2 separate regions of the Homo sapiens genome follow, and region 1 is linked to region 2. A link means that fine-mapping ties the variant in region 2 to the expression of a gene that starts in the linked region. Tissue or cell type: whole blood. Region 2 holds a variant in brackets; the other region holds the start of a gene. All regions are shown on one strand. Distances are from middle to middle. Region 1 holds the start of BRD1 (bromodomain containing 1). Region 2 holds the start of ZBED4 (zinc finger BED-type containing 4).

Region 1 (15,471 bases), 21 kb after region 2:
TACAGGCGTGAGCCACTGCACCTGGCCTCATCCTAACTTTATATCTGCAAAGACCCTATTTCCAAATTAGCTCATATTCCCAGGTACTGTGCTTAGGACTTCACCATACCTTTTGCAGGGGGGACACAATTCAACCCATAACCGAGGAAGGAGACAGCAGAGAAGTTTGGGGATGAAGACCAAAAGCTGAGTGCCAGATACGTTGAGTTCGAGATGCCTACAGGACATCCTGGAGGAGAGGCTGAGAAGGCAGCTAGATGTTGGAGCTGTCAAAGCATACTTTTTAAAAAGTTAGAAACAGGGCCAGGCGCGGTGGCTCACGCGTGTAATCCCAGCACTTTGGCAGGCCGAGGTGGGCGGATCACGAGGTCAGGAGATCGAGACCATCCTGGCTAACATGGTGAAACCCCTTCTCTACTAAAAATACAAAAAAAAAAAAAAAAATTAGCCGGGCGTGGTGGTGGGTGCCTGTAGTCCCAGCTACTTGGGAGGCTGAGGCAGGAGAATGGCATGAACCTGGGAGGTGGAGTTTGCTGTGAGCTGAGATCGCGCCACTGCACTCCAGCCTGGGTGACAGAGCGAGACTCCGTCTTAAAAAAAAAAAAAGTTAAAAACATGACTCATACAACTCTAAAGTGAAGACGTGTCAAAGATTTATTTTAATCATTAATGAGGAAACCAGCATGATGGTGAGGCTGGTTCAAAAGATTGGAGAGAAGGAAGTATTTGTAGTGACTTAAAAAAGTTTGAGTAATTCTGCTTATTTAGATTTTTAAAAAAACTGGTTAATGTTCTACAGGGCCATAAACCGCAACCTTTTCTTTTTTTCTTTTCTTTTTTTTTTGAGATGGAGTCTTGTTCTGTCGCCCGGGCTGGAGTGCAATAGCTTGATCTCAGCTCACTGCAACCTCCGCCTCCCAGGTTCAAGCAATTCTCCTGCCTCAGCCTCCTGAGTAGCTGGGATTACAGGCGCCCACCACCACGCCCGGCTGATTTTTGTATTTTTAGTAGAGACAAGGGTTCACCATGTTGGCCAGGCTGGTCTCGAACTCCTGACCTCAGGTGATCCTCCCACCTTGGCCTCCCAAAGTGCTGGGATTACAGGCGTGAGCCACTGCGCCCAGTCAAACTGCAACCTTTTTTACTGTAATCTTTTCCACTGGACAGAAATAATTTCTATCACTCACTACTGGGCAAAATTTATTTGCATTGCTGTCAGAGAGGAATAATTTTACTTAGCCATCTATCTTCAACAAATTAAAGTCTACCCTTGCTGAGTTGTAAAATATCGTAATCAATAGTATATAGCAAGTTAAGCAGGCGCACACTCCAGAGGATCCGAAAATCTGCCTGGCAGGCTTGCTCAGGAACATAGCCTGCCACTGAATGGACACACTCATTTTGGGGTGTCTAATCCTTAATCTGGGACATTTTTATTAGCTCCCTCTTGGGATGATAAATAATCTCCGAAGGTTATTCTTGACCACAGAAAGCTAGTCTTGCATTCTGACCTAATTCATCTACACAGGTGCTGCAAGAAGTGGTAATTACCACGCACGAGTGTCCTTGTTAGGTGACACATGTAAACCAGATGGCGTTATGCAATGACCAAGCCGGAAAATCAACTTCTGTCTGGACGTGTCATCATAAGGAATGTAGGACTGAGCCTACATCACACCTGAGATTTTTTGTTTTTTAATTTCTCTTATTTGCTCTTCTGTTCCTAGGCCAGGAAGCCGAACCAAATCCACCTCCCTCAGGTGTGCCCGCGGGACCTGTGTGTGTGCAAGTTTCTATCTTCCAGAAGGTTCCAGTGTCTGCCATGGCTCTTGGCCTGCCAGGAAGTATCCTTCTTACTACTTGTGAGGCTGAGGCTTTGTGTGCCAGAGTACAGGTGCCCGGCCAGTATGGGTCTGAGGGTTGTGTGGGCATTGGTTCAGCACACAAGCCACAACCCTTGTTCCTTAAAGGTGGGCGTGTTGTGGAAGCACAGGAAAGTTATTCTCAAATATGACACCCATGTAAGGCCTGGGCTCCACTATTAATTTGTCTGATTATATCCTGGTGACAAGGAGGACAAATTTCTACTGCAACAATGCAAATTACTACGTTTTTATTAAAAGTAAATGTCAGTAAAACTATTTTTCCTGAATTCTGAAGTGAGAAAAACACCATTTAAAGAACGTTTTAATGTTTGTGAAAGGATAGTCTCCTAAAGTAGATTGTTGCAGATACCGGGTAAAAATAAAAATTAAATAAATTAAAGGTGAGATAGATCAAAGAAGAAGGGTTTTGTCTTATTCCTGCCAGAAACAGAATATCAGAAACAACATGAGCATCCTCCTCCTTGCCTTTTCTTGGGCTGTGCTTTCAGCCTGCAGATATAACCATTCTGGAGAGCAGTGATGCCCCCAGAACCGCATTTTTGGCTGGTGCAAAATGGGGGGCAGTGGTTGTGTCTGGGGCCAAGTTTCTGTCCTGTATAGCCTAGAGATGGTTATGTAGCGGGGGACTGAGCTACTAAGTGAAGGCATAGATAGTTATGTAGAAACAGAGGAGGGTAGAATCAACTCCATGCTAGATTGTAACTGGAGGTACAGGTATCAGTATGAACTCAAGGTTTGCTAAGAGGTATCAGAAAAGATATGGGTGTGTGTGTGTGTGTGTGTGTGTGTGTGTGTGTGTGTGTGTGTGTGTTTGTACATACTTATTTCCTAGCTCTGTCTGCTGAGTGTAAATGGAATCATATTCTGTAATCTTTTGAGATTTCTTTCTTCCATTTAAAATTATGTGTTTGAGATTTGGCCGTGTTGGTGGTGGAATTCATTCATTTCTGTTGCTGTGTGCTATTCCATTGCGTGGATACACCTCACTTTGTCCATTTTACCGTCCTTTGATATTTAAGATTTCTCCCAGTATTTGCTATTAAAAACAGCGTTAAAATAAAAAAAAAAAAACACCAAAAACAGTGTTGCTCTGAACATTCATGCACATGCTTCCTGATGAACAAGTTTCTTTTTTTCTTTTCTTTTTTTTTTTTTTTTTTTAGATGGAGTCTTGCTCTGTTGCCCAGGCTGGAGTGCAGTGGCGCAATCTCTGCTCACTGCAAACTCTGCCTCCTGGGTTCACACCATTCTCCTGCCTCAGCCTCCTGGCTAATTTTTTGTATTTTTAGTAGAGATGGGGTTTCACCGTGTTAGCCAGGATGGTCTCAATCTCCTGACCTCATGATCTGCCTGCCTCAGCCTCCCAAACTGCTGGGATTACAGGCGTGAGCCACGGCGCCCGGCCCTGATGAACAGGTTTCTTAGGCACACACCCAGGCACGGAATGCACCTAGGAATACAAATTGACTTAACCCTACAGCCGGGAATGGGTATGCACACTGGGGGAGCTTGCATCTTCTCAAAGTGGCCACAACAACTTCTCCCATACAGCATGCTTCTCTTAAAATGTGATGATAACACATGTCCCAAGAGGTGGGGTCTGTATTCTCCCTAACTCTTGAATCTGGACAGGCTTGTCCCTATGGCAGAAGTGATGCGTGTGACTTCAGAAGCTAGGATGTGAAAAGTGATACAGGTCCCACCTGCTTCTCTTGAGACCCTTGCTCCTGCAGCATGGCTACTATTCCATGAGGATGTTCCCAAGGCCCTCAGCCCAGAGCCTGGATCAAGGTCCCAGCCACGTGAGTGCACCATCTTGGAAGTGGCTCCTCCAGCCCCTAGTGGAGGTGCCCCAGATAAGGATGCAGGAAGTAGTCTAGTTGTACCTGCTGAATCCTGCCCAAATAGCAGATGTGTGAACAAAAGGAATGACTGCTGTTTTGAGCTACAAAGTTTTGGGGGTGGTTTGTTTTGCAGCAAGAGGTAACTGATAAACATGTCCACTTTCACTGGGTAACGCCTTATGACCAAGATATTTACCAAATAATTGTCCCACTCGACATTCTGGCCAGCAGGGTATTGCTCTGCCATCTTGCCATCGCTGAGTATTGCCACATATGAACGCTGGTGCCTATTTGGTGTGTATTTTGTTTGCATTTCCAAATTTACTAGTAAGATGATTGGCCTTTCCATGTTCTCTGCAAGAAGCCTGATTATGACATGGGTTTCTTTGTTGATTTGGGTTTTGTGCATCATTTTGTTGGCTTGTTTGTCTCTTTCTAATGGATCTGAAGGGGTTCTCTATATATTCTAAATACTAATCATCTGCAAGGTGTACATATCTTTTAGTTTTTCATTCTTCAGTCTCTTTATGGTGCCTTTTGAGGAACAAACATATGATAATTTCCATCCTTTCATTTACGAAATGGAGTCTTGCTCTGTCACTCAGGCTGGAGTGCAGTGGGGCAATCTTGCCTCACTGCAACCTCAGCCTCCTGGGTTCAAGTGATTCTCCTGCCTCAGCCTCCTGAGTAGCTGGGATTACAGGCACGTGCCCCCATGCCTGGCTAATTTTTCTATTTTTAGTAGAGATGGGGTTTCACTATGTTGGTCAGGTCTTGAACTCCTGACCTCAGGTGATGCACCTGCCTCGGTCTCCCAAAGTGTTGGGATTACAGGCATGAGCCACTGTGCCTGGCCCCATCGTTTTATTTTTCATCTGTTATTTTTCAGGTGAATTTCTTGTAAGAATATTTCACCATATTTATATTCCATTCAGAGAGGTTGTCTTTTAATAGATGCATTTAATCCAATCACATTCCTCTGATTACTCAAATGTTTGAACTTAGTTCTGCCAACTCATATTATGTTCTGTATTTATCATGATTTTATCTTTTACTCATTCCTGTTTTTTTTTTGTTGTTGCTGCTGTCGTTTTTCATTTCGCTTTTTCCTCAGCTGTTCTGAAAGTGGTAAATTCTTTTTCCACCATTCTTGTGGAAACTTTCTGATAGTTAAAACTTTTTTTTTTTGTTTTTTTGAGATGGAGTTTTGCTCTTGTTGCCCAGGCTGGAGTGCAATGGCACCATCTCAGCTCACTGTAACCTCCACCTCCCAGTTTCAACCAATTCTCCTGCCTCAGCCTCCCAAGTAGTGGGATTACAGGCATGCGCCGCCACGCCCGGCTAATTTTTTTTTTTTTGTATTTTTAGTAGAGATGGGGTTTCTCCATGTTGATCAGGCTGGTCTTGAACTCCCGACCTCAGGTAGTCTGCCCGCCTCGGCCTCCCAAAGTGCTGGGATTACAGGTGTGAGCCACCATGCCCAGCTAAAATTTTTAACCTTTTTTTCTATCGATTCTAAAATCCTCGAACCAAACAATACAAGAGCTTTCGTGCACTTTCACTTCCTTCTGCGCCCCGCCTTACCATGTGTCATGTTGAGTTCATCCGGGATTTCTCTCAGGTTGATTTTCTTTTAACGGACCAGACTGATTTACTTGCTGGCATCCACGTCTTACTCTTGGGTCCACTTTTCACTTTGTTAAGGTATTTCTTCTAGTACTTTTACAGACTGCGTGTGTGGTAAATGTGGATGTTAACCGGCGGTGAAGACACCTTTATTTTGCTGTCTCACTGGAACGCTAGTTTCACTGTGTATGAGTTACGGTTCAATTCTCTTAGTATTTTGGCAACCCCTCCTCTGTAGGATGAGTCTGAATTCTAAAGAAGATCCTCTCCGAAGGCCTTCCTGAGTATCCCTGTGACATGCCTACGTTCGAGGCTTTGTTCTTCACTCCTCTGAGCATCACCTGCATTGTCTGAGAGGCCACTGTCCCCGTCTCCTCTTCTGTGAAGGGTTTCGTGTCTTTTCATCTTCTCTTTCATGAGACTGTGTCTTACTTTTGCTCTGTGTTGTGGAGAACCTCCAGCTTGGTTTCCATCTGGCTTCCCTGAGGTGGAGGAGAGAAGCGTTCGGGCTCAGCTTGCTTGTTTGGCCACAGGTAAACAGACATCTGTAGAATGGAGGTGACACGAAGCTCCTGGGTCTGGTGCAGAAGAGGTCAGGGCCCCAGTGGCCTGTACCCCCTAAGCTCAAGGGTGTGTCTGCAGGGAGTCCTAGATCAGGACTGACCACTGGGGCCTTGGCTGGGGTCCTACCTGCCCTTGAGTCGTCACGTCACAACCCACACACTGGGTGCCATGGGCATGAGGACTGGCCAGGAAAAGGCCTGTGGGGCCTGGCCCCTATCAGGGACACTTGGGCGAACAAGGCCACCCCACTCCCAATAAGGTGTTTGGTGCAGTGCCCCGAGCAGTGGGGCCGCTCGGCTGCCCCCGTGGGGACGGTCTGTCCCAGGGTGGACAGCTGCTCTTCCTGAGGGGCCTGCCTGGATGCCACAGGCTGTGCTGCTGGAACCCAGGGATTCCACAGCACCATCGTCCTGATCACAAATTCTCAAGGAAACCAAGGAGCTCCTGCCTCACCTTAAAACATTTGGGATTTAATCTTGGAGTGAAAATTGTTATGACCCCACTGAATTTTAGAGTTTACACAAAAGGCCAAAGTGAAGGCAGAGACTCAGGCCTCTCAACTCCCACCCGCAGGGGCCTTTTCTTGCAACCTTAAAGGGCATCTGCTTCACGCCGGCCTCGGCAGGGCCCTCACACTGGCAGGACTACTTGCACACCGGGCCTGACACTCACTAGGGGAGGCTCCCCAGCCCGGCTGCACCACCCACCTCTACCTAGTCGCGTGTCCCGGCCAGTGCCCTTTCCACTCCCACCCAGTGCCCCCGCAGGGCCCCCTCTGTCCTCTTAGGGACCTCCACTCCCGGACCAATAGCCTCCTGCCTCAGGGCCCCCCACTCATGGGCCAATCGCCCCCTGCCTCAGGCCTCCCCCCACTCGTGGGCCAATCGCCCCCTGCCTCAGGCCCCCACCAACTCGTGGGCCAATCGCCCCCTGCCTCAGGGCCCCCCATTCCTGGGCCAATGGCCTTCTGCCTCAGGGACTCCCACTCTCAGCTGGTCCCCCCCGCCTCAGGGACCCCCACTCCTGGCCGTTCCCCCGTCAGGGCCCCCGACTGGCGGCTGCTCCCCCATCCTGCCTCGGGGCCCCCCACTCCCGGGCCAATGTCCTTCTGCCTCAGGTACCCCCACTCCCGGCCCGTCCCCCCGCCTGTGGGCCCCCCACTCCAGGCCGGTGGTAGCCCCTGCCTCAGAGCCGCCCACTCCTGGGCCATCTCCTGCCTCAGCGACCCCACTCCTGGGCCAATGCCCTTCTGCCTCAGGGACCCCCACTCCCAGCCGGTACCCCCCTGCTTCAAAGCCCCCGACTCCCGGCTGCTCCCCACCTGCCTCGGGGCCCCCCACTCCTAGGCCTACGTCCCCCTGCCTCAGGGCCCCTCATTCTCCATCCTCCTGACCCCCTCAGGGACCTTCTGGCCCGGTCCTCCCTAACTCAAGGGCCCCCACTCTCCATCCTCCCGACCCCCCACTCCCAGCCCGGTCCCCGCCGCCTCAGGGCCCCCTTTGGCCCCCGCTCCTCGCGGCGCCCCCTCCCCCGCGCGCGGCCGAGGCAGCGGAGTCCGCGCGTCATGGCGGCGGCGGGCGGGGCGCGTCTCGCACGCAGCGCGCCGGGCGGAGCGCTCGCCGCATTGTTTGCTTCGCTGGGGAGCGAGCGAGCGACCCGGCCCTGGAGTCCGAGCCAGCCCCGCGTCCCGCGCCCGCCGCCCGCCGCCCGCTCCCGCGCCCGCGCCCGCGCCCGCCGGCCGGGCCCCCCGAGCCGGGCCTCCAGCTGGGCCCCGAGCCCGAGCCCGCGCCGCGCGAGCCGCTGCCCGAGAGTCCGCGGCCGCCGCTGCCGGGCCCGGAGCCGCCGCGGCCGAGAGGGGCCCGCGCCCAGGAGCGGCGGCGGGGCCCGGCCTGCGCGGCCGTTGGCGGAGGAGCCGCGGGCGCCATTAGCACCGCCTCGGCCGCGCCGGCCCCCGCGCCCGCCCGCTTGCCGGGCTCCCGCGGCCGCGGCGCCCCGAAGGTGAGTGGGCGGGGGCCTGGCCGGGGAGGCCTCCCCGCCGCCTCGCGGGCCGCCCGGCCGCCGCCGCCGCCTCGGCCCGGCCTCTCGGGGTTGTGGTGCCGACGCCATGTTTGGCGGCGGCGGCGGCGGCGGCGGCTCCGCATTGTCTGCGGGCCGGGAGCCCGGGATGCCGGGGAGGCCGGGCGGGGAGACCGGGGAGGTCGGGCCGGGCGGCCGGGGAGACGGGCGGGAAGACGGGGAGGCCGGGCGGGGAGACCGGGTAGGTCAGGCCGGGGAGTCGAGGGAGGCCGAGTCGGGCTGTGGGTCTCGGCGGCCTGGGCCGCGGGCGCCTGCCCGGAGTCCGCGCTCGAGTCGGGTCGGGCCTCGGGCAGCCGCCGAGCCGGCCGGGCCGCCCCTTATGTAACAGACAGGCCCGCCGAGCTCTGCCAAGACGGGAACTCCCTGTGAGCAGGGACGCGCCCCGAGATCGCCCAGGAGCCGCGCGGCCTGCGGCGGCCGGGCTTGGGAACCGGCACCGCGGCCTCCCCGGGCGTTTGCAGGGAGACGCCTCGCGACGAACGCGAGGCTTCCCCGGGCCTTTTAAAACGAGTGACACGATTGAGGCGCAGTTCACGGGAAACGCGGCTCTTGTGAGCGGACGCGGGAGTTCTGAGAATCCGTAGCAGCGGGACCCCCTGCCCCGCGGGGTGCGGCCCCGTCTCCCCAGAAAGCGCGGCCGCCCGTGTCTGTTTTTGAGGGTCTGTCGCCAGGTGGTTGTGTAGTTAGTGGAATCGGCGGATGTTTTTGTTTGGCCGGCCCAGCGCCGTCCCGAGTGCTGTGTGCTGCACACAACTTCGCACAGCTCAGCGGCCGCGGCCCCTGTGGCCTTGACCGAGAGGCCCGGCGCGTGGCCGGCTTCTCCCTGGGCGGGCGGTGGGAAGATGGAAGCGGCCGTCTTGTGGGCAGCCTTCCCCGCCTGTGGCCCGCAGGGCTCTTCGATGTACTTAAGGGAATTATTCCTTGAGAAGCTACGTGTGTGCCCCCGCGGATCCCTCCCAGTGGAAATGCTTGTCCCAGTGGAAGGGCCAGGGACAGAACCGGCCCAGGGGGGAAGCGGTGAAGCAGAGGAGGTCGTGGGTCGCCCTGCCCTGCTGAGGGCCTACTTTCCCCGGGTCCCAGTTGCATGTTGAGGGTATGGAGCTGCTGTGGCCGTGAAGCCTTCGGTTCAGTTCTCCCCTTGTAGAAAGTGTTGCGATGAAGAGCTTCACGGCTCCCTGGGAGAGAGTGGGTTTCCAGGGGCTGCTTGTCGTTAGGGCGACTCAGGACTTTGCTGTCGAGGGGAAAATGACAGGTTCGTTTCTGATCTGGTGAGTAACCAACTGTTGCTTCTGCCCCACCTCAGTAATGACGCGTGTCGGCGTCCCGGGTGCACTAGGGTCGCTCTCTGCAGGCTGTGGTGTCACCTCTGCAGGGCTCACGGGGCCGGCTGGGGGGTGGCTGTGCTGACAGCTCCCCAGGAATCCAGGGTTGAGTGGGTACCTGGAGGCCCTGGAGATGCAGGGGGTCTGAGGTTTGGCCGACCACATTTTCTCTCCTATTCCTTTCTGTAGGTAATTGCAATCTAGTTTCAACATACAATGAGGATTTCTGTCTGATACAGAGAAAGATACCCAGTGTCTGGAGGGTCTGTCTTAAGAAGTGCTCTTGAAGTCTGCTGGGATTTCCTTTCGGGACTCACAGAGGGAAGCCTGCTCCCTGAGGGCTTTTTCTCAGGCCCAATAGATCAGGGTAAGGCTGCTGTGGGTGCCCCTGATCCCCCTGGGCCCCGAGGCCAGGCGTCCCTGACGTGGCAGGGCTAGATGCAGAGTATGCCTTGGGCTTCAGCTGAGAATATTTGTTTTGCGAGTCAGTCACTGAAAAATCATTTTGCTTCCTGTCAGTGAAGTGTGGCGCTTTGGAGGGAGGCACTGCCCAGCAGGCGGTGGTCTTCACAGGAGGTGTCCACACACCAGGCACCCTGGGGACAGCTAGGAATAGACGCAGTCCGTGGTGTTGGGACAGCAGAGGCCTCTGCCACGAGGAGCTGGAGGTATGGGAGGCAGCTCACTGGTTTTGCCTACCTCTGGAAAAGCAGATTCTCCTAAGCCTCTGTGGCCAAGTCTTCAGGCACCTGAGCCAGCGCTGGCGACCCTCCTGGTGAGGGTCTCTGCAAGCAGCGAGGGGTTCCTGGGGGTCACCCCTCGCTGTGGAGCCTGAGTGGAGCGTCTGCCTTCACGTGTGCCGGGGAGAACAGAGATTCCCTTTGGCGTCATGCATGTGTCTGGATTCTCTCAGAAAGGAGGAGGACGTGGAAGGAGGAGGACGTGGCCAGCACCATGGTCTCAGTGGGGCTTGAGGAGTGCCCCTGAGGGGAAGGGGCAGGTTGGCTCAGCCTGTGGTGGTTTCCATGGTGGTCACTGCCAAGGCTCTGCAGAAGCGGGGTTGGGGCCTCCCAGGGGCCAAGACTGTCCCCTCAGACCAGTACAGGGCTCCCCTGTTGGTCCCCTGTGCCGTGTTGTGCGTGTGGAGGGCCTGTCTATAGAGGATGGACAGGCTGTGATCTGTCTCCTACCCCTGGCCCCAGCAGGAATGCTGCAAGGACTGTGGTGACTCTGGGCTCATGGGAGTGCTCTCCTGGGAGTAGTGGGGAGGGGAAGAGTGGTTTAGGGGGAGCATCCGATAGGACCAGGTAGCCACTGAGCATGCCTGTCTGGTGGGCATAGCCTCTGTGCCTGGTGGGGTCCAGCCCTGTATGTGGACTTCCTGGGGGACCGCCTGCATGCTGGGAAAGTCCTGCAACTGTGGGCTCTGGGCCGGACCCCTCCTCCTTGGGGAGCGTTGCTGTGGTCTCCGCAGCCTGTTGGTGTGGTCTGAGAGGGGACTGGTGTGTGGTGGTAGGGACGCAGGTGCTCAGGAGGGCTCCTCAGGCTGCCTCTCTGCCTGTTACTGCTGCTCCCTCCCTGGTCCTGGGGACTCGCTCAGGCCTGGATGTGTGGTTTTGGACACCTTGGAAAGAGGTTAGCTGTGAGTTTTGCTTTGATTGGGCTTTGAGCTGCTGAGCTAGATCTGTCCAAGCATGCTTTTGTGGTTTTCTCGAGTCTTTGGTCACCCTGCGTAGAATTACCTTTACTTTTGCCTTCATTTTAGGTAATCATTACCAAATGAGGAGGAAAGGACGATGTCATCGAGGCTCTGCAGCGAGGCATCCTTCTTCCCCATGCAGTGTTAAACACTCCCCTACGCGAGAAACGCTGACCTACGCTCAAGCTCAAAGGATGGTAGAGATAGAAATTGAAGGGCGCTTGCACAGGATCAGTATTTTTGATCCCCTGGAGATCATATTGGAAGATGACCTCACTGCTCAAGAGATGAGTGAGTGCAACAGCAACAAGGAAAACAGCGAGCGGCCTCCTGTCTGCTTAAGAACTAAGCGTCACAAAAACAACAGAGTCAAAAAGAAAAACGAGGCCCTCCCCAGCGCCCACGGCACGCCGGCCTCGGCCAGTGCCCTCCCGGAGCCCAAGGTGCGCATCGTGGAGTACAGCCCTCCGTCCGCCCCCAGGAGGCCTCCTGTGTACTACAAGTTCATCGAGAAGTCGGCCGAGGAACTGGACAACGAGGTGGAGTATGACATGGACGAGGAGGACTATGCCTGGCTGGAGATCGTCAATGAGAAGCGCAAGGGCGACTGCGTCCCCGCCGTGTCGCAGAGCATGTTTGAGTTCCTGATGGACCGCTTCGAGAAGGAGTCGCACTGCGAGAACCAGAAGCAGGGCGAGCAGCAGTCTCTGATCGACGAGGACGCCGTGTGCTGCATCTGCATGGACGGGGAGTGTCAGAACAGCAACGTGATCCTCTTCTGCGACATGTGCAACCTGGCCGTGCACCAGGAGTGCTACGGGGTGCCCTACATCCCCGAGGGCCAGTGGCTCTGCCGCCACTGCCTGCAGTCGCGGGCCCGGCCCGCCGACTGTGTGCTGTGCCCCAACAAGGGTGGTGCCTTCAAAAAGACAGATGACGACCGCTGGGGTCACGTGGTGTGTGCCCTGTGGATCCCAGAGGTCGGCTTTGCCAACACGGTGTTCATCGAGCCCATCGATGGGGTGAGGAACATCCCTCCAGCCCGGTGGAAACTGACATGCTACCTCTGTAAGCAGAAGGGCGTGGGTGCCTGCATCCAGTGCCACAAAGCAAACTGCTACACAGCATTCCATGTGACGTGTGCCCAGAAGGCTGGCCTGTACATGAAAATGGAGCCCGTGAAGGAACTGACTGGCGGTGGCACCACCTTCTCCGTCAGAAAGACCGCTTACTGTGATGTCCACACGCCTCCAGGCTGCACCCGGAGGCCTCTGAATATTTACGGGGATGTCGAAATGAAAAATGGCGTCTGTCGAAAAGAGAGCTCGGTTAAAACGGTCAGGTCCACATCCAAGGTCAGGAAGAAGGCAAAAAAGGCTAAGAAAGCTCTGGCTGAGCCCTGCGCGGTCCTGCCGACCGTGTGCGCTCCTTATATTCCCCCGCAGAGGTAAGCGTGTCCAAGCATTGAGTCCACAAGGAGCCTGCAGTGTGGGACCCTGGGAGGACGTGGGCACAGCCTGCAGGGCCCGTGCTGTGTGGTCATTGCGTTTCTAGTTGGCGCAGCTTCCTAATATTCCCCTGAAGTGTGGTTCTGCTTGTTTACCACGTCTTTTTGGGGAATAGATGTTGTAAAAGATTTTAGTCTGTAGGCTTGGAATAATCTGTAGTTTTCTATGTTTTTTTTTTTGGAGACGGAGTTTTACTCTGTCGCCCAGGCTGGAGTATAGTGGCGCAATCTCAGCTCACTGCAACCCCCGCCTCCTGGGTTCAAGCAATTCTCCTGCCTCAGACTCCTGAGTAGCTGGGACTGCAGGCGTGCGCCACCATGCCCGACAAATTTTTGTATTTTTTAAGTAGAGACGGGGTTTCACCATGTTGGCTAGGCTGGTCTCAAACGCCTGACCTCAAGTGATCTGCCCGCCTTGGCTTCCCAAAGTGCTGGAATTACAGCACTTGCTCAGCCTTTTTTTTTTTTAAATAGGGTTTTGCTCTGTTGCCCAGGCTGGAGTGTAGTGGCACGATTTCAGCTCTCTGCAACCTCTGCTGCCAGGTTCCAGCAATTCTTGTGTCTCAGCCTCCTGAGTAGCTGGGACTACAGGCGTGTGCTCCCATGCCCAGCTAATTTTGTATTTTTAGTAGAGGCGGGGTTTCACCATGTTGCCCAGGGTGGTCTGGAACTCCTGAGCTCAGGCAGTCTGCCTGCCTCTGCATCCCAAAGTGCTAGGACTATAGGCGTGAGCCACCATGCCCAGCCGTGCGTGAAGATTTTTAAGAATTTCAGTGACTAAACTTTAAGAAGGAATGAAGCCCACGCAGGAACTCTGTATGACTTTCAACCCGAGGGGCTCTGGCCTGGGCTTCCCAGTGACTGCCGGCATCGGGACATCCACTGCTGTGGCCTTGGCCCCGTTTCCCGTGCTGTGCCCCCCACTTGCTGCAGATGCCCTGAGGAAAGGGTGGCCAAACAAGGGGAGGAGCTGTGAGCACAGATGGGGCCTGCCGGTCAACAGGGCGGGTAGAGCCAGCCTGGTGCTGAGCTTGCAGCTTGGCTGGGGGAGACGCCTAGAGCCCCAGTACCACACAGACCCTCCAGGACTGCCGGGGGTCAGTGAGCAGGACCCTCTGAGGTGTCAGACCTGCCCCACATGTGAGGGGAGGACAGCACAGGTGGGACGCATGCAGGCTGAGCTGCATCGGGCGGTGAGGCTGGGAGGTTGCAGTGAGCTAAGATTGTGCTACTGTACCGCAGCCTGCGTGACAGAGTGAAACTGTGTCTCAAAAAAAAAAAAAGAAGTTTTAAGTGATTTTTGTTAATATTACTCTACTTTACCAAAGTGAAGTCCAGTTTCTTTTCACAGAGCTGTAAATACTCAGATAATTAGTCAATTCAGACAGAATGAACAAAAAATGCTCATAATCCTTCCCATCCAGGGAAAACCCTGTCAAAACCAAGGTGTTTGTCTTTGTAAATTAATCTGACTTTGAAGAGATGGTTTTGCTTGGATTTCTACCTATGAGTCAAAAAGTCTAGGGTTTGTATTAAGAGCTTCTGTATAAGAGGTCTAAAAATTTCAGCTTTACTGAAATTGAAGCAAAATAAACAAAATGTGATCTAACAAAATGAAGAGCCAAAAGTCTGAAGTGCTCCCTTCCCTGGCCAGTACCAGATGATGACCTGCTCTGGGAGAGGCCGGGCCTGGCCGGGCCGCACGCTCTCTGTTCTTTGGCTCCTGATGTTGGGTAGGCAGGACTGAAGGAGGCAGTGTTTGCATGCAGGACATGGGGGCTGAAGTGGCCAGGGCTGATTGAGAAGAAAACTCGACCTAAATATTTGAAAGCATGTATTGGAGCTAAACCGCGTACTGTGTGGTTCTGTTCTTTTCCTAACTTGGGAATAAACTATTATTTCAGCTTCGAGTAGAGAGAGAGAAACAAACCTGGACGAGTGTTCCTGGCCGCGGTCTCTGCAGTCTGGGTTTCCCAGTCTCCAGGAGATGCTGGTGCTTCAGGCCACCTTGCCACCAGTGGAGGAGCTCCCAGTGCGCCTGGCCTGTTGGCACCATGGTGCTGGACCCACCTCTGGGGTGGTTGTGAGGGGCAGGCTCTCAATACAGTACTGACTGCTGCCTGAAACCGGGTTTACTGCCTTGCTGTGGTCTGAGAGGCAGCTGATCTGGCAGCCCTGTTCTTAGGCCCTGGGCACTACCCCTGGGTGCATGTAGGAGGCCTCAGCTGTGCATTTGAATTCTGTGTAGATGAGGGTGAAGCTTCTTATTTTTTATTTTATGTTTAGAGACAGGGTCTTGTTCTGTTGCCCACGTTGGAGTGCAGTGGCGTGATCATGGCTTACAGTAGCCTCAAACTCTTGGACTCAAGCGATCTTCCCGCCTCAGCCTCCTCCCAGCCTCAGCTGGGAATACAGGCACGAGCCACTGTGCCTGGCCCATGGTGAAGCTTCTTGATGTGCAGCCGTGGGCGGGGATGCTGAGTCTAGTTGGTTATGGTGTGCACTAACCAATGGCTCCGGTGTAGGACCCACCTAGAGCATCTGAGGATGTTATGCTTCAGGCCAGCCAGTCACGCTGGAAGGGAGATGAGACCCCATCTGAGCAGCGTTTTAGAGATTTTAGAGAAAGAGGATCTTCCTTATTCCCTGTGGACAGAACAGAATCTGCCTTCAGGGACGGACTGCTTTTATAATTCTAGTGGTTTAAAAAATTAAAATTTCAAGTAAAAAAGATAGTTCTTTTTTTTCCCCCCTTTTTTTTGAGGTGGAGTCTTGCTTTGTTGCCCAGGCTGCAGTGCAGTGCGGTGATCTTGGCTCACTGCAACCTCCACCTCCTGGGTTCAAGTGATTCTCCTGCCTCAGCCTCCTGAGTAGCTAGGATTACAGGCACCTGCCACCACACCCGGCCGATTTTTGTATTTTTAGTAGAGACGGGGTTTCACCATGT
Region 2 (15,471 bases):
TCAGGGCAACCTCCTCTCCCTATGAGGTCTCCGGAGCATGCTTTCCTGAGAAACTGGGATTACCCCTGCTCTCACCTGCCGGTGTTTCTCCTTGAAGCACTTACTGAGCCTTTTTCTCTGGTTTACGCTGCTCCTCACCACCACCATGTTCCCTACGGCCAGGGCCTTCTTTGAAAACCACCATGGCCCCAGCAGGCAGAGAGGCAAGCACCTCTGTCTCTCCTGCTCCCCTCCGCCTCAGAAATGGCAAAGAGCTTATTTTATTCCTAACAATGCCTCCCAGAATTTGAACTACAAAAGCACATATCCAGTGATGACCAAGGAAGGGATCTGAGGTACTGCAGAATGTAGAAAAACCTAGGTGCTAAAAAGTGGGGAGCAGAAGGGCCTGGAAGGCTGGGATGCAGAGAGGCCCGAATCCTTGAAAGGGCTGAAGCCAGAGAGCTGCTGGAATCCACAGACACTAAAAGAGAAAGCCAAAACCAAACCGCTAAGGGGTGTCACGGGCTAAAGGCACAGTGACTTTCTTACACAGCCAAATGTAAATAAGAGCAATTCCTATAGGTACATTCTCAGGTCCTGAGATTTAAACAGTGAAGGAAACAACGTTGGTAAGGAAGGGCCAGCTTGGCCTCTACCCCAGGGCTGGGCAAAGCCACGCCCAGCTGTTTCACCTGCTCCCTCCTCTCAAAAGACAACCACCACACCAAAGAGAATGAGACCAGAAGCTAAAGCCAGGCAAAGAAAAAAACGCAAAACAAAGTGAAGGACGGCACTGACCACGGTCACTTCCTGCTCCTCATGCCGCCAGGAGTCCACTCCCCAGGGCTCCTCACCAAGGATCTGAGACACACACACACACACACCTTTCGCTAAAGAAGCTGCTTCTCAGCTCCTCTGCACACACACAGAAGTCAGTCCGCTCCCCTAGTAATTTTTTTAGTCTTTCTGCAAGGTGTTATGGACATACTTTGCACAGCTGAGTTACTCACTGTGTGTGTGGAGGGGGTTGGGGAGGAGGTAACCTTAAAGAGCAGAGGTTTTACATCCAACAACATCAACCACCTTATTCAGGAATTACCTGGACAAGAGTGTGTGTTGGGGGAGACCCTGTAACCACCTGTCAAGTGGACTAAAAGTCTTAGGTTTCTTTCCATATAGATTAACTGTGTCCTCACCTCAAAGACCGGGCCTCTGAAGCTTTTTCAAGATTCACAGAATCTCTCTTAACTTGTGCTAGATCTTTTCTTGAAAAAAAGCCAATCATGACAAGCAGATATAATCCGTTTAAGGACTACGGGAAGTGTGCAGCCTTGTACGGACGTCCCATTGGAAACCCTCGGAGTATGGAATCAAACTCCTGTAAACTTTCCTCTTGCAAAGTAACTTTGTTTAGTAATTGCAATTAATTCATAATCAAAATGTGGCTTATTCATAGCACTTAAAAAAAAATCCCAACCAAATCCTTCCTAGCCTCAATTTTGTCACTATGAATGACATACACAGAAAAAATAAAAAACATTTCTGTGTAAAAAGTCGCAGGATGCCCTTGCTTTACCAAACTGGCCTCACTATGAGGTCTGAATGGATTTCTAAAAACGTAATCTGATCAGAGTTAACTTCAAAATAAATAACTTCCCTTTCGACCAACACGAGAACACCAACAGAAGCTTCTGACGGCTCAGCTTGGCCGGGACGTGTTTCCACAGAGGTGCCCGGGTCTACCAGGGCCACCCGGAATAGAAAGGCGCAGAAGGGAGCCCGAGGGGCTGCGATTCTCTTAGCAACGAAGGCGGTGTGGGCCACACAACGGGACAAAAGAAGAAACAAAACTGACTGCGAGCTCATTTGGGTGTAGGAAAACCACTGCAGTCGAAAAACATTTGAAATTATGGTTCGCAAGGCAAGTTACATTTTTATTCATTAAATGTGAACGGTCATCCCCAGAACCACGTACAATAACCTGCCTCGGGGCGCGTCGCAAGGACCCGTCTGGGCTGAGACATGAAGCAGGGCCCAGGTGGCCCTTCCTGGAGGTGGGACGGGAATGACACGTCCAGAGAAGTCCCAGGGACGGGGCTCGCGGGGTTAACTCGACGTGGCCGGGACAGCGCGCTCCCGGCGGACCCGGGCGGCGCCCCGAGCCCGAGCCCCGTCCCGTCCGCCCGGAAGCAACGGCGCGGGCACGTGGGCCAGGCCGGGCGCCGACCCCCGGCACTCGGCCGCTCAGTCGGCGCCGCCCCCGCGCCAGCTGTCAGGGCCGGGGTCCGCGCGGGGGCGGGTCCGGGGCGGCGCCGGGCGGGGACCCCGAGGCCACGGAACCGCGCCCCCGCCCGCCTGGCCCCGGCCCTGGCCCCGGCGCGGCGCAGACAATGGCGCGGCCCGGCCCGGCCCCGGCGCGGTCCGCGGGGGACGGGGCTCGCGGCAGGCGGCGGGGCGGCGGCGCCCGCGCACTCACCTCGGCCCGGCCTCTGGGGCGGCTCCCGGCCGGCTGCGGACGACGGCGGCGCGGGCGGACGCTCCATTCATTACCGCGGCTTTGTCTGCCCCCGCGCCCCTCCCGCGGCCCCGCCGCCCGCCGCCCGCGACGCCGCCGGACGCTGCGCCCCTCCCAGGGCCCCGCGCGGCGCGGGGCGGGGCTGGCCGGGGGCGGGGCCGATCGGGGGCGGGGCCTACTCTCGCAGGCGCAGTGTCCGCGTACCCGCCCCGCCTCGTCCCTGGCCGGGCGGGAGGACGGAGCGCCGGAGGCCCGGCCGCTGGGGCGGGGTCGGGCGGAAGACGCAGGCGCAATGCGCGCTTCGGCTCCGCCCCCGGGTCCAGGAGGGCAAACTACGCAGGCGCAGTGGGCGCTCCGGCGCTGGCGGGCGACGGGAAGGGCTTAGGCGCTCTGGCTGGGCGGGGCGCGGGCGCCTTGGTTTCGTCCCGTGGCTTGGCAGTTGGCAGCGGCTCGGCGCGCACCCAACGGCCCACCGCGGGTTTCCGGGACGGCTAGCAGCGCGGTTCCCGGTCCCGCCCCGAACCCCCTTACCTGGCGCAGAGGCCGCTCAGTGCGGTGCGGTCAGGCCTCGTGGGCTGGGACCTAAGCCGTTGACCCTAAGGCGATCGGGGCTCCCCGCGCGGCCCCCCCGGGGGACGGGATTAACGCCTAAGCCCCAAGCCGGGTCGGCGGGAGGAGGGCGGCCCTCTGGGCGAGCGCGGGGCCGGGGCTGGCGGTGCGGAGCGCACGGGACTCGCCCGCTTCTCAGGGTCTGAAGGAAATGTGCACTTTTAATGTGTTATTTCCTAACACAAATGTTTGAGCAGACCAAATAAACTCTGCATGCTGAATGTGGCCCCGAGGTCCCCCGTTGGTGACACGGCTTTCGGCATTTTCTCGGCCTGAGTGTGAGAGTGAGAGGAGCCCGCGTGGCGGTCACCGGCTGGAGCGGGAGCGTGGAGTTATCACGGCCGCCTCTGCCCGGAGCCCGCCCCTGCCCCGCGGCTGTGCCCCTTCACCCGCACGCCGACTGTTCCAAAGTCCACGTCCAGCCTGCAGCCGGGTTTTCTATGGTGCCTGAGCTAAGAATGCTTTTCTCGTTTTTAAGAGGTTGGGGGAGAATTAAAACAGTATTTTAGCATATATGAAAAGTATATGACATTCAAATATCGGCCGGGCACGGTGGCTCACGCCTGTAATCCCTGCACTTTGGGAGGCCGAGGCGGGTGGATCACCTGAGATCAGGAGTTCGAGACCAGCCTGGCCAACATGGAGAAACCCCGTCTCTACTGAAAAAAAATAAAAAATTAGCCAGACGTGGTGGTGGGCTCCTGTAATCCCAGATACTCGGGAGACTGAGGCAGAAGAATCGCTTGAACCCGGGAGGCAGAGGTTGCAGTGAGCCGAGATCGCGCCACTGCACTCCAGTCTGGGTGACAGAGCAAGACTCCGTCTCCAAAAAAAAATTAAATTAAAATGTCGGTTTCCTAAGGAGTTCAACTGGAACACCACCATGCTTGTTCATGTAGTTAAAAGGTAAACTGCTTTACCTTCCACCATAGCTATGGAGTTGAGACCAGGCACTGACACCCAAAAAGGGCTCCCTGTTTCTTTCTTTTTCTTTTTTTTTTCTTTCTGAGACAGAGTCTCGCTCTGTCCCCAGGCTGGAGTGCGGTAGCGTGATCTCGGCTCACTGCAACCTCCGCCTCCCGGGTTCAAGCGATTCTCCTGCCTCAGCCTCCAGAGTAGCTGAGACTACAGGCGCTCGCCACCACGCCCAGCTAATTTATGTATTTTTAGTAGAGATGGGGTTTCACCATGTTGACCAGGATGGTCTCGATCTCCTGATCTTGTGATCCGCCCGCCTTGGCCTCCCAAAGTGCTGGGATTACAGGCATGAGCCACCGTGCCCGGCCTGGGGATCCCTGTTTCATTCAGAGTGGAGGCCAGTGTTCTCAGGCCTGCTCTGCCCCTGCCATCCCCTCATCAGATCTGCAGCAGCCCCCAGCCTCCTTGATGCTTGCTTTGGGGTCTTCGCACTGACTTCTTGTCTGCCTGGACTGCTCTTCCCCTCTGCCAGTGTCAAGCTCCCAGACGGCTGCCCATATGTCAGCATAGTGGGAGGCTCTCCGGGGCCATGCTCTAGGAAGTAACACTGCGCTCTCCTCATCCCCTCTCCGGGCTCTGACACATCTGACACACTGTATATGCCTGTGTCATGACTGCCCCCCAACAGCCTCCTGCTAGAATCAGTGGGAGGGGGGACTTCTTTGTTGTATGTGCTGAGGGAGCATGCCCAGTGCCGAGAGCAAGGCCCCCTACGCTTTGTGGAGTAGGTTAATGGGGCCCCACAATTGCCTGGCACTCATGTGCAGAAATAGAAGATTCCTGGGGCCAAAGAGCAACAGCTCTTCCCAAAGGGGCCTGCCGGTGAGTGAGTGAGTGCAGGTTGACAGGTCCCTCCTAGTGCCTTCCAAATTGTGCAGGGCAGCCAGGTGCGGCCTATTCTCTGGCCCCTCACAGGAAGATACTGTTTTGTATGTCGGGTGGCCCTTGGACTAAGTGCCCAAATGGGGCACCCTGGAGCATGGAAGGGCACACTAGACATCATGGGGCCAGGACCCAGCATCAACTGGGACTGTTTCGGCAAGCCAGTACCCCATGCCTCCACCAGCTGCAGTCCATTCATTTAATCTTTGATGGGCACTTTCTGTGTGCCCAAGATACAATATCTTATTTTTTCTTTTTCTTTTTTTTTTTTCAGTCTGCAAGTGCTTGGTACATACACAGATGGTATTTATTTGCTGTTTGTCTTAAATTGCATTCTTATGCATCATAGAGACTGCGATAAGGAGAAGAAAAAATATTTTCTACAGGACCATCCAAACATGTAAGTGGCTTTTCATGGGACAGTTTCCCATCACGGGAAAGACATAAGTCGATTCTTAGTCATCCAGAGTGTCAGTATCTTATTTTTTCATTCATCTGAACCAAAGTGTGACATCCCAGGGCCAGGTGTTTTATCTGAGTTCCATGCACAGACTGTGAGCCCCACCTGTACAGGGCAGTGCGAGTCAGGGATGCTCCGCACTGAGGCAGAAGAGCAGCTGGTGCCCTGGTCCTCTGTCCACTGAGGCTGCAGGTGGACCCACAGCATCTTCCGAAGGCAGGGAGCCCTCCGTGCTTGGAGCACTGTGGCCCTGGAGGGTTCGCCCTCATGTGATGTGACTTTGGTTGAGTTTCTTAGCTGTGAATTAAGATTATGAGCCCAGCTTGGGGGTAGGGCATGGAGCTGATGGTGTCACATGTGGAAGCAGCTGGGTGACCCCGAGCCCGGTGACCACTGGTCACTGGGGAGGCACAGACCTCGCTGTGGCAGGGTCCTGAGGGCCAGGGCCTCAAAGGAGGGTGGCTGTGTCCCTGGGCCCCGCGGGAGTAAGGGTGTACACCTGCCAGTCCCCTGCCTACAGTGGTGGTGGGGTGGAGCCCCATGGTCCCTTCCATCTGGAATCTCAGACCTGGCCCCCCTCTGCCACCCTGTGCCTCCCGTCTGCCTTTCAGGGTAGCAAGAATGCTGTGCGCCCCACTGGGGAGGGAGGTGGGGAGGACTCCAGAGCGTCCAGGTGGGGGCTGCTGCAGAGGAGATGGTTTCTCTCGGGTGCAGAGGAGGGTTGGGCCCTGGGCACCTACTGGTCACTCTTCGCCACGACGGGGACCTCACCACGTTGTCCCTCATCCACGTCACCCGCCCAACCCACGCGGAGGGTCCTGAGGGCTTCACCACGCAGCCCTGAAGGGGCAGAGCTGGGGTCACACAGGTATCGGAAGCCCACGCTGTGGCCCCAGGAGAAGGTTCTGGATGTGGCTCCTATGAGTGAAGGGTGGACTCACAGCGCTGCCGGAATAAAGGGAAACCACAGGCAGGAGGGAAGCGCGTCCAGGATCCGCGGCCACCGGCCTCTCAGACTGTCTTCTGGGGCCAGGTCGCGAGGAGATGGAAAGCGGGGGCATCACAGGCTCGTCTGAACCCGCGCGTTCATTCGGCCACACCGACCCCAAACCCCTGCATGCGGGCAGGACCCCTGGTTCTCCTGCGCCCACCCCAGCCCTGCTGGCCGCCGGGGCATTTGAGGGATGGTTGCGGGGGGTCGGAGGGTGGAAGGGGCGTCGGGCAGCCTCGGTGGGGAGGGGAAGAGGCTTCCCGTGCACTATGGACTCCCGCATTCGGGAAGGGAGGCGCTCGGGGTTGGGGAGGGAGGAAAAGGCGGCTGTGTTCGGGGAGGGGGCAGCGAGACCCCGCCCGGGCTACGGGTTGCAGGATGGAGCGGACGGGAGGAAGGAGCCCTGACGCCGCGGACCCCACGCCTGCCGGCCGTCCCCTCCCTCCCTGCCTTCCTTCCTTCCTCCCTCTCCGCAGAGGCAGCGCGGGGACCCGGCCGGGGTGGGGCTAGGGCGGTGCGCCCCGGAGCCTCCAACCTGGACCCCACCCCGGAGGCGCCGCGACCGCGCTCCCGCCGCCTCCAGGAAGGTGCCCGGATCGCGCCGGCGACCGGAGGACTCTGCGCCCCGCCGCCTCCCACCCTGTCCCGCCCCGCGCCTGTCGGCGACCCCGCGGGGCCGGTCCCCGTCTCCACCTGCAGTCCGGGGCGCGGCGCCCTTGAGGGAAGCGGGGCTCTGGGATCCCCCGGCCTGGGCGTGGGACACCCCACGGTCCGCACGAACCTTGGTGGCCCGGGCCCCTGCTCCCCCAGAACAGCGCCCAGGTCTCGGAGAAACCCCCCGAAGCCGTGGGCCCAGACGCTCCCGGGGGACCTCGGTGGGACGGGCAGGGCGGGCGCCGCGGGCGAGGGGACGCGCACTGTCCCCGGGCGAACCAGAAACACCCCACACCGGGCACCTCCCCAGGAATCGCCCACCCACCCCCATTGTTCTCCACCAGGTTTCACCTTACCACCCTCCCCCCAGGCATCTCCCCCGTTGCATCGCCCCCACGCGGGCATCGCTCCCACCCGGGCATCTCGGCTCTGTCCTGCCCTGGGGTGGCCGCAGCCCGCGGGGAGGAAGCG[C/A]GGCGAGGCGCCCACACCGGGAAAGTGTCTCCGTGACTCTGCGAGGTTACACTCCGGGTGCGTCGCTGCGGGCTCGTGGGCTCGTGGGCTGCAGCCCCCCGCTCCTGTCGGGTGGACGAGCCCCGGGCCCGCGTGGAGCTGCTCGGTCAAGGCCGGCCCGGGAGGGGCGCGGCGCAGGGCGGGCAGGGGCGGGGTCCTAGGTCAACGTCCAGCCCCAGACCCAGCCCCGCCGCCGGATCCACCGTGCCTCTGTTTCCCCATTCCTGAGAAATCGGAACGCCGGCGGCACCCCCTTCTCCGGGCCGGAGCCTGCGCCCTCCGGATTGCGCGCCTCTGTCCAGGCGGCGGCCGGGGGTGGGAGCGCGCAGCGGGCCAACTTCCCTAAAGGGAACTGTCGGGAGGGCGCCCAGAAGGGAAAGACCAGGAAGCGCTGGGTGCTGAGCTGGAGTCTGGCCCCTTCCTGGGGGACCGGGGAGGGGGCTGAAGGTGGGGAGAAGACCGCCGGGGCTGCTAGGGGGGCACTGAGGGAGCGTCCAGGGGGAGAACTCTGGGTGGGCGACGCCGCAGGGGAGCTGCCTGGCAGGGGCGAGGGCCTCGGGGAAGTGGAGCTTCTGGCCGAGAGCTGCATCTGTGGCCGGGGAGGGAAAGGGTCACAAGGGCAGTGCGCGCCGGGAGGGAAGCTCAGGCCGGGGGGAAGGGACTGCGCGGCGGGGACAGGTGCGTCGGGTGCTGGACAGTGAGCAGGAGCCCGCCGGTGCTCAGGTCACGAAGGTGCTGGAGCCGGGGGAGCTGGAACGCAAGGGGGTTAAGGGAACGCGCTGGGAAGGGTGGGGGCGGCAGCTGCTCCAGGCTGCGGTGGCCTTGGTTCTGTCTGAGGGTCCATGGGTGGAAAGGCATTTGGAGCTTGTGTTCATAGCTGGGACTGCCAGATTTGGTGGATAAAAATACAAAATTGCGTGGGACCGGACGGGCGCGGTGGCTCACGCCTGTAATCCCAGCAGTTTGGGAGGCCGAGGTGGGCGGATTACCTGAGGTTGGGAGTTCCAGACCAGCCTAACCAACATGGTGAAACCCCGTCTCTACGAAAAATACAAAATTAGCGGAGCATGGTGGCGTGCTCCTGTAATCCCAGCTACCAGGGAGGCTGAGGCAGGAGAATCGCTCGAACCCGGGAGGCGAAGGTTGCAGTGAGTCAAGATTGGGCCATCCAGGCTGGGCGACAAAAGCGAATCTCTGTCTAAAAAAAAAAAAAAGTGCACAGCACGTACATATACTAAAAAATTATTATCTGGAATTAAAATGTAACTGATTGTACCGTATTTTATCTGCAACCCTAATCATAACAGGCATGTTGTTCTCTGTATATAGTCCAGTCAACAGCAAAAGTATGTAAAAAGGTGAAAAAACTACTTATGACACATCCCTAAAGGAATAACTTTAAGAACAATTAGGTGTATATTGCCCAGGGTTTTTGTTTTTTGTTTGTTACCTTGAGTCGGGGTCTTGCTCTGTTGTCCATGCTGGAATGCGGTGGTGTGATCACAGCTCAGTGCAGCCTCAACTTCCCAGACTCAAGCAGTCCTCCCACCTCAGCCTCCTGAGTAGCTGGGAGTACAGGCACCTGGCTAATTTTTGTATTTTTAGTAGAGACGGGGTTTCATCACGTTGCCCAGGCTGGTCTTGAACTCCTGGGCTCAAACAACCTGCCTGCCTCGGGCTCTCAAAGTCCTGGGATTACAGGCATGAGTCACTGCACCTGGCATTGCCTAGTTTTTTGTTTGTTTGTTTTTTGAGACGGAGTCTTGTTCTGTCACCCAGGCTGGAGTGCGGTGGCACAATCTCGACTCAATGCAACCTCCACCTCCCGGGTTCAAGCGATTCTCCAGCCTCAGCCTCCCGAGTAGCTGGGACTACAGGCGCATGCCACCATGCCTGGCTAATTTTTTGTGTTTTCAGTAGAGATGGGGTTTCACCGTGTTAGCCAGGCTGGTCTCGATCTCCTGACCCCATGATCCACCTGCCTCAGCCTCCCAAAGTGCTGGGATTAGAGGCGTGAGCCACAGCGCCCAGCTGGCATTGCCTAGGTTTTATATATGACCATATATTTAAAAAAGAAGGCCAACATGGTGGCTCACACCTGTACTTCCAACACTGGGAGACCGAGATGGGAAGATCACTTGAACCCAGGAGTTTGAGGCTGCAGTGTTCATGTCGGCTGTAGTGAGCCGAGATCGCACAACTGCACTCCAGCCTGGGCAAAAGAAAAGAGTACATATATATATATAATTTATTATTTTTTTTTTAGAGACAGAGTCTTGCTCTGTCACCCAGGCTGGAATGCAGTGGCTTGATGTCGGCTCACTACAGCCTGAATCTCCTAGGCTCAAGGGGTTCTCCCACCTCAGCCTCTGGAGTAGCTGGGATTACAGGCGCAAGCCACTGTGCCTGGCCTAAATGTGTGCCATCTTTATTTCAAACACTTGTTAAAATGCTGTTGTTATTCTTCAGGACAAGAGCAAAAATCACCCCCTGCAGAACCTAGGAGCTACGTGCAGAACTTTACAGAGTTGAGGCAGCGCCGTAGCTGAGGCCTGACTGCTAACCAGGGAGTGGAGCTCTGAGTGCACTCAAGGAACGCAAGGAAGCCAGGCAGGGAGGAAGGGGCCGGCGGAGTCTAACTTCAGCTGCCATCTTTTTTGGTGGCACATCTCGTGGTCACAGGTTGTAGGCTGTGTTTCTGGAAGGTTCAGGTACAGCGCAAGATTCCACTTGTCTACTTGGCTATCTCTGTGCCTGAGGTGCCATGAGGCCAACGGACGTCACTCAAATTCATGTCCAGCCAAACTCCCACAGCAAAGAATCCCGAACCGAGGATGAAGTTCCTCTAGAAAGCATTCCTATCTGTGGCAAAGCTGCAGACACCCCGAAACCCATCTCCCACCTCGTCTGGAATTTCAGGAGCTTCGTTTGCTGAGCCAGTGCACTCATGGCAACCCTGCAGGAAGCCATGTGGCACCTCTGGGCTTTGCACCGTGTGTGTTCTCTTCTCTAAACTGCTGTTTTTGCTTAGCAAAGAGCCTCGCCTGCCACTGATGATGGCAGTGTGGGGTCATTTTGAATGGCTGCCTGACACTGCATGGCACATTCACGTACACAGTCCTGTGGGATCGTGACATAATAAGAAATAGATATTTCATCTCTGCCCCTGGTTCCTGACACAGAGCTCCTAAAACCATTGAAATTTCCTGGATAATAGGAGCTTCTTCTGTTCCAATGGGGTGACTCTTGGTGGGCTCCTGGATGGGGGCTGGTCACTAGCGAGACCACACCATGATGAGAAACCTGGAGCTTCAGCCCTACCCCCACCTCTGAGCAGGGGAGACGGGCTAGCTAGAGGCGCGGTTCCTAATGCGCCATATGCCTACATGAAGACGTCTCCGTAAAAGTCCCTCAGCAGTGGGGGTTTGGAGAGCTCCCAGGTTGGTGAACACATCTCTTTGTGGGGGGCGTGGAGCACCCCAGCTCCCCAGGGCTGGCAGCTCCTGTGCTGAGAACGCTTCTGGACTTCGCCTTACGCACCCTTCATCTGACTCCTCATCCCTATCCTTTATCGTATCTTTTATAATAAACATGTTTCTCGCCAGGCGCGGTGGCTCACGCCTGTAATCCCAGCACTTCGGGAGGCTGAGGTGGGCAGATCACCTGAGGTTGGGAGTTTGAGACCAGCCTGACCAGCATGGAGAAACGCTGTCTCTACTAAAAATAAAAAATTAGCCAGGTGTGGTGGTGCATGCCTGCAATCCCAGCTACTAGCAAGGCTGAGGCAGGAGAATCGCTCGAACCCAGGAGGCAGAGGTTGTGGTAAGCTGAGATCGTGCCATTGCACCCCAGCCTGGGCGACAAGAGCGAAACTGGGCCTCAATAAACAAACAAACAAACAAACAAACAAACATGTTTCTCTGAGGTCCATAAGCCATTCTATTCGTAGCAAAGTATCCAACCCAAAGAAGGGATTGTAGGAACTCCTGAATCACACTTGCTTGATCAGAAGTACCAGCGACCCAGACCTTCCACTGGCACCTGAAGTGGGGGCAGGCTGTGGGACGGAGCCCCTAACCTGTGGGATCCGCCTCAAACTGGAGGTGGAGAGTGTCAGAGTGAATTGCTGGACTCGCAGTTGGTGTCCAGGGGCTAGGAGAAGTGGCTGATGTGGGAACCCTCTGCCCCCATTTGGTGTCGGAGGCAGAGTGTTCTATGTGACAGAGGAGAGGAAAACAGTTTTTTTTCCTTTCAGCAAGGATCTGAAGTGTGTCCCTTTCCCTATCAAAAACAGTTCCCAGGGGAGCATGATCATTTTTGTTCCTTTGCAGATCCTCTAGGTATTTTCTTAGAAAACATTCCTGGCAGGAAACTTTAAATATTTATTTATTTTAAGTTTTAAAATCTTTATTTTTTTTGAGACAGGGTTTTGCCCTGTCCCCCAGGTTGGAGTGCAGTGGCACCATCCTAGCTCAATGCAGCCTTGAACTCCTGGGCTCAAGTGATCCTCTCTCCTTGGCCTCCTAAATGGCTGGGATTACGAGTTTGAGCTGCAGTGCTTGGCTGCAGTGCAAAATTGTATTGAAATAATTGTAGATTTACATGCCATTGTAAGAAATAATAGCATAGAGAGATCTCTTGTATGGTTTGCTCAGTGTTTCCCAAGGGTACCATTTTACAAAACTAGAGTGGAACGTCACAGCCAGGGTATGGATGTCAATACGACCCACGGATCTTATTCAGAGTACCTCAGTTCTACGTCTACTCATTTTTATGTGTATATTAAATTCTGCATGATTTTATCAGCAGGCAAGGCTTGCACACCCACAGTCATGATGCTGAAGGGCTCCAGTACCACAGGATTGCTCATGTCGTCCATCTATAGTCACACCCGCCTCCCTCCTGTCCCCAGCCTGACATGAATCTCTGGCAAACACAAATCTGTTCTTTTCTAAAACTGTGTCATTTAAAAATCACATAGTAGGCTGAGTGCAGTGGCTCATGCCTGTAATCCCAGCACTTTGGGAGGCCGAGGCGGGTGGATCACCTGAGGTCAGGAGTTCGTGACCAGCCTGGCCAACATGGTGAAACCCCATCTCTACTAAAAATACAAAAAATTAGCCGGGCGTGGTGGTGGGCGCCTGTAATTCCAGCTACTTGGGAGGCTGAGGCAGGAGAATTGCTTGAACCCGGGAGGCGGAGGTTGCAATGAGCCGACTTTACGCCATTGCACTCCAGCCTGGTCAACGAGCAAAACTCTGTCTCAAAAAATAAAAAATAAAAAATAAAAAAATCGCATAGTAAGTAGCATTTTTGGATCGGCTATTTTTGCTCAGCATAATTCCTTGGCGATGCTTCATCCCAGTTGCATGTACCAACGGCCTGCTCCTTTTCCCTGCTGAGTAGAGCTGCGTGGAATGGGAGTACTATGGTGTGTTTAGCCATTCACTGCTGAAGGACATCTGGGCTGATACCAGTTTTGGTCTGTTACAAATATAGCTGCTATGAACACTCGTGTACAAGTTTTGGTGTGAACAAAAGTCTTTATTTTTTGGGCACGGTGGTTCACGTCTGTAATCTCAGCACTGTGGGAGGCCGAGGTGGGCAGATCATGAAGTCAGGAGTTTGAGACCAGCCTGGCCAACATGGTGAAACCCCATCTCTACTAAAAATACAAAAAAATTAGCCGGGTGTGGTGGTGGGCACCTGTAATCCCAGCTACTCCAGAGGCCGAGCCAGAAGAGTCGCCGAAATCCAGGAGGCAGAGGTTGCAGTGAGCTGAGCTCGCACCACTGCACTCCAGCCTGGGCAACAAGAGCGAAACTCCATCTCAAAAAAAAAAAAAAGTCTTTTTTTCTCGGGGATGAATGCCCAGAAGCACAACTGCTGGGTCCCATGGTAGTCAGATGGTTAGTTTTTGAAGAAACTGCCAAGCTGTTTTCCAGAATGGCTGTACCATGTTACATTCCCACCAGCAATGCATGAATGGCCCAGCTTCTCCAGGTCTTTGCCAGTGTTTGGTGGTGTTACTGCTTTTCATATGAGTCATTTGAATAGGTGTGATGTCTTGTTGCACTTTTAGTTTGCACCTCCATAATGGCTAAGGATGATGGACATCATGGTGTGTGTTTATTCTGTATATTCCCTTCATGGAAATGTCTCTTCATATCTTTTGCTGACTTTTCTATTGGATTGCTTATTTTTATTTCTTACTGTTGAGTTTTGAGAGCTTTTCTATATTCTACACGCCAGTCCTTTGTCAGACAGGGGGTGTGCAAATGCTTTTTCTCAGGCTGTAGCTTGTCTTTTCATCCTCTGAACAGGGTCTTTCACAGAGCAAAAGTTTTTAGTTTTAATGAGGTTCCCTTTATCAATATTTTATTTTATGGCTCACGCTTTTGGTATCAAACCTAAGAACTTTTTGCCTAGCCCAAGATCCCAAAGATTTTCTCCTATGTTTTTCCTAAAAGTTTTATAGTTTCACGTTTTAGATCTATGGTCAATTTTGGGTGTTTTTGTTTTCTTTCTTTTTTTTTTTGAGATAGAGTCATGTTCCATCGCCCAGGCTGGAGTGCAGTGGCGCGATCTCGGCCCACTGCAACCTCCGCCTCCTGGGATCAAGCAATTCTCCTGCCTCAGCCTCCTGAATAGCTGAGATTACAGGCACCTGCCACCATGCCTGGCTCATTTTTGTATTTTTAGTAGAGATGGGGTTTCACCATGTTGGCCAGGCTGGTCTTGAACTCCTGACCTCAAGTGATCCGCCCACCTCAGCCTCCCAAAGTGCTGGGATTACAGGTCTGAGCCACCATACTTGGGAAACTGGCACTTTTTCTATTTGAGCTTTCCAATCTGTGAAGATGGTTTATCTCTCCACTTATTTGGATCTTTGATTACTTTCATCAGCATTTCATAGTTTTTAGCATGTTCTATACATGTTTTCTTAAATTTACACCTAGCTGGCCGGGCGCGGTGGCTCATGCCTATAATCCTAGCACTCTGGGAGGCTGAGGTGGGTGGATCATTTGAGGTCAAGAGTTCAAGATCAGCCTGGCCAACATGGTGAAACCCCATCTCTACTAAAAATACAAAAATGAGCCAGGTGAGATATTGGGCACCTGTAATCCCAGCTACTCGGGAGGCTGAGGCAGGAGAATCTCTTCAACCCGGGAGGCGGAGGTTGCGGTGAGCAGAGATCGGGCCATTGCACTCCAGCCTGGGTGATAGAGTGAGACTCTGTCTCAAAAAAGAAGAAGAACAGGTAAAGGAAATTCTCCGAACAGAAAAGAAAAGACAACAGGCGGGGCGTGGTGGCTCACACCTGTAATCCCAGCACTTTGGGAGGCCGAGGTGGGTGGATCACCTGAGGTCAGGAGTTCAAGACCAGCCTTGGGCAACATGGCGAAACCTTGTCTCTACTAAAATACAAAAAATTAGCCGGGCATGGTGGCGTGCGTGTGCTTTTAATCCCAGGTACTTGGGAGGCTGAGGCAGGGAGAATTGTTTGAACCTGGGAGGTGGAGGGAGGTTGCAGTGATCTGAGATTGCACCATTGTACTCCAGCCTGGGCAACAGAGCGAGACTCTGTCTCCAAAAAAAAAAAAAAGAAATGACAACAAACGAATGTTCAGGGAGGAAAGAAGATGGTAGAATGAGTAAGCACCGGTAAAGACACTAGGTTGGCCTTCTCATAAGTTTTTAAAATCATATTGGATGGTTGAAGCAAAATTATAACACTGTCTGATGTGGCACTAAGTATATATAGAAAATAGACAATTCCATTATTTTTTAATTTATTTTTATGTTTATCATTATTCTTTTATTTATTTATTTTTGAGATGGAATCTCGCTGTGTCGCCCAGGCTGGAGTGCAATGGCTTGATCTCAGCT

The links.
Region 1: it holds the start of BRD1, and the variant in region 2 is fine-mapped to the expression of BRD1 in whole blood (TOPMed, PIP above 0.99).

The regions. Positions count from the first base shown.
Region 1 is chr22:49,819,944-49,835,414 of GRCh38, reverse strand. BRD1 (bromodomain containing 1) reads left to right here and starts at 7,542. Exons shown (of 13, transcript NM_001304808.3): 1 at 7,542-7,918; 2 at 11,084-12,464. The coding sequence starts at 11,098. LOC105377205 (a long non-coding RNA gene) reads left to right here. Exons shown (of 5, transcript NR_188597.1): 5 at 1,728-2,966. RefSeq lists silencers at 7,408-7,477, 8,208-8,377 and enhancers at 8,878-9,077, 10,287-10,866.
Region 2 is chr22:49,840,977-49,856,447 of GRCh38, reverse strand. It overlaps ZBED4 (zinc finger BED-type containing 4), which reads right to left and starts at 2,604. Exons shown (of 2, transcript NM_014838.3): 1 at 2,459-2,604. It overlaps LOC124905156 (basic proline-rich protein-like), which reads left to right and starts at 6,796. Exons shown (of 3, transcript XM_047441701.1): 1 at 6,796-6,850; 2 at 6,894-8,028; 3 at 10,051-11,188. The coding sequence starts at 6,796. The coding sequence ends at 7,927. LOC105373091 (sterile alpha motif domain-containing protein 1-like) reads right to left here and starts at 6,858. Exons shown (of 2, transcript XM_011530661.3): 1 at 6,368-6,858; 2 at 5,778-6,266. The coding sequence starts at 6,700. The coding sequence ends at 5,778. LOC105377205 (a long non-coding RNA gene) reads left to right here and starts at 2,936. Exons shown (of 5, transcript NR_188597.1): 1 at 2,936-4,012; 2 at 5,241-5,366. It also overlaps LOC124905147. RefSeq lists silencers at 1,957-2,246, 2,417-3,146, 3,167-3,256. The variant C/A (reference allele first, on the strand shown) is at 7,543.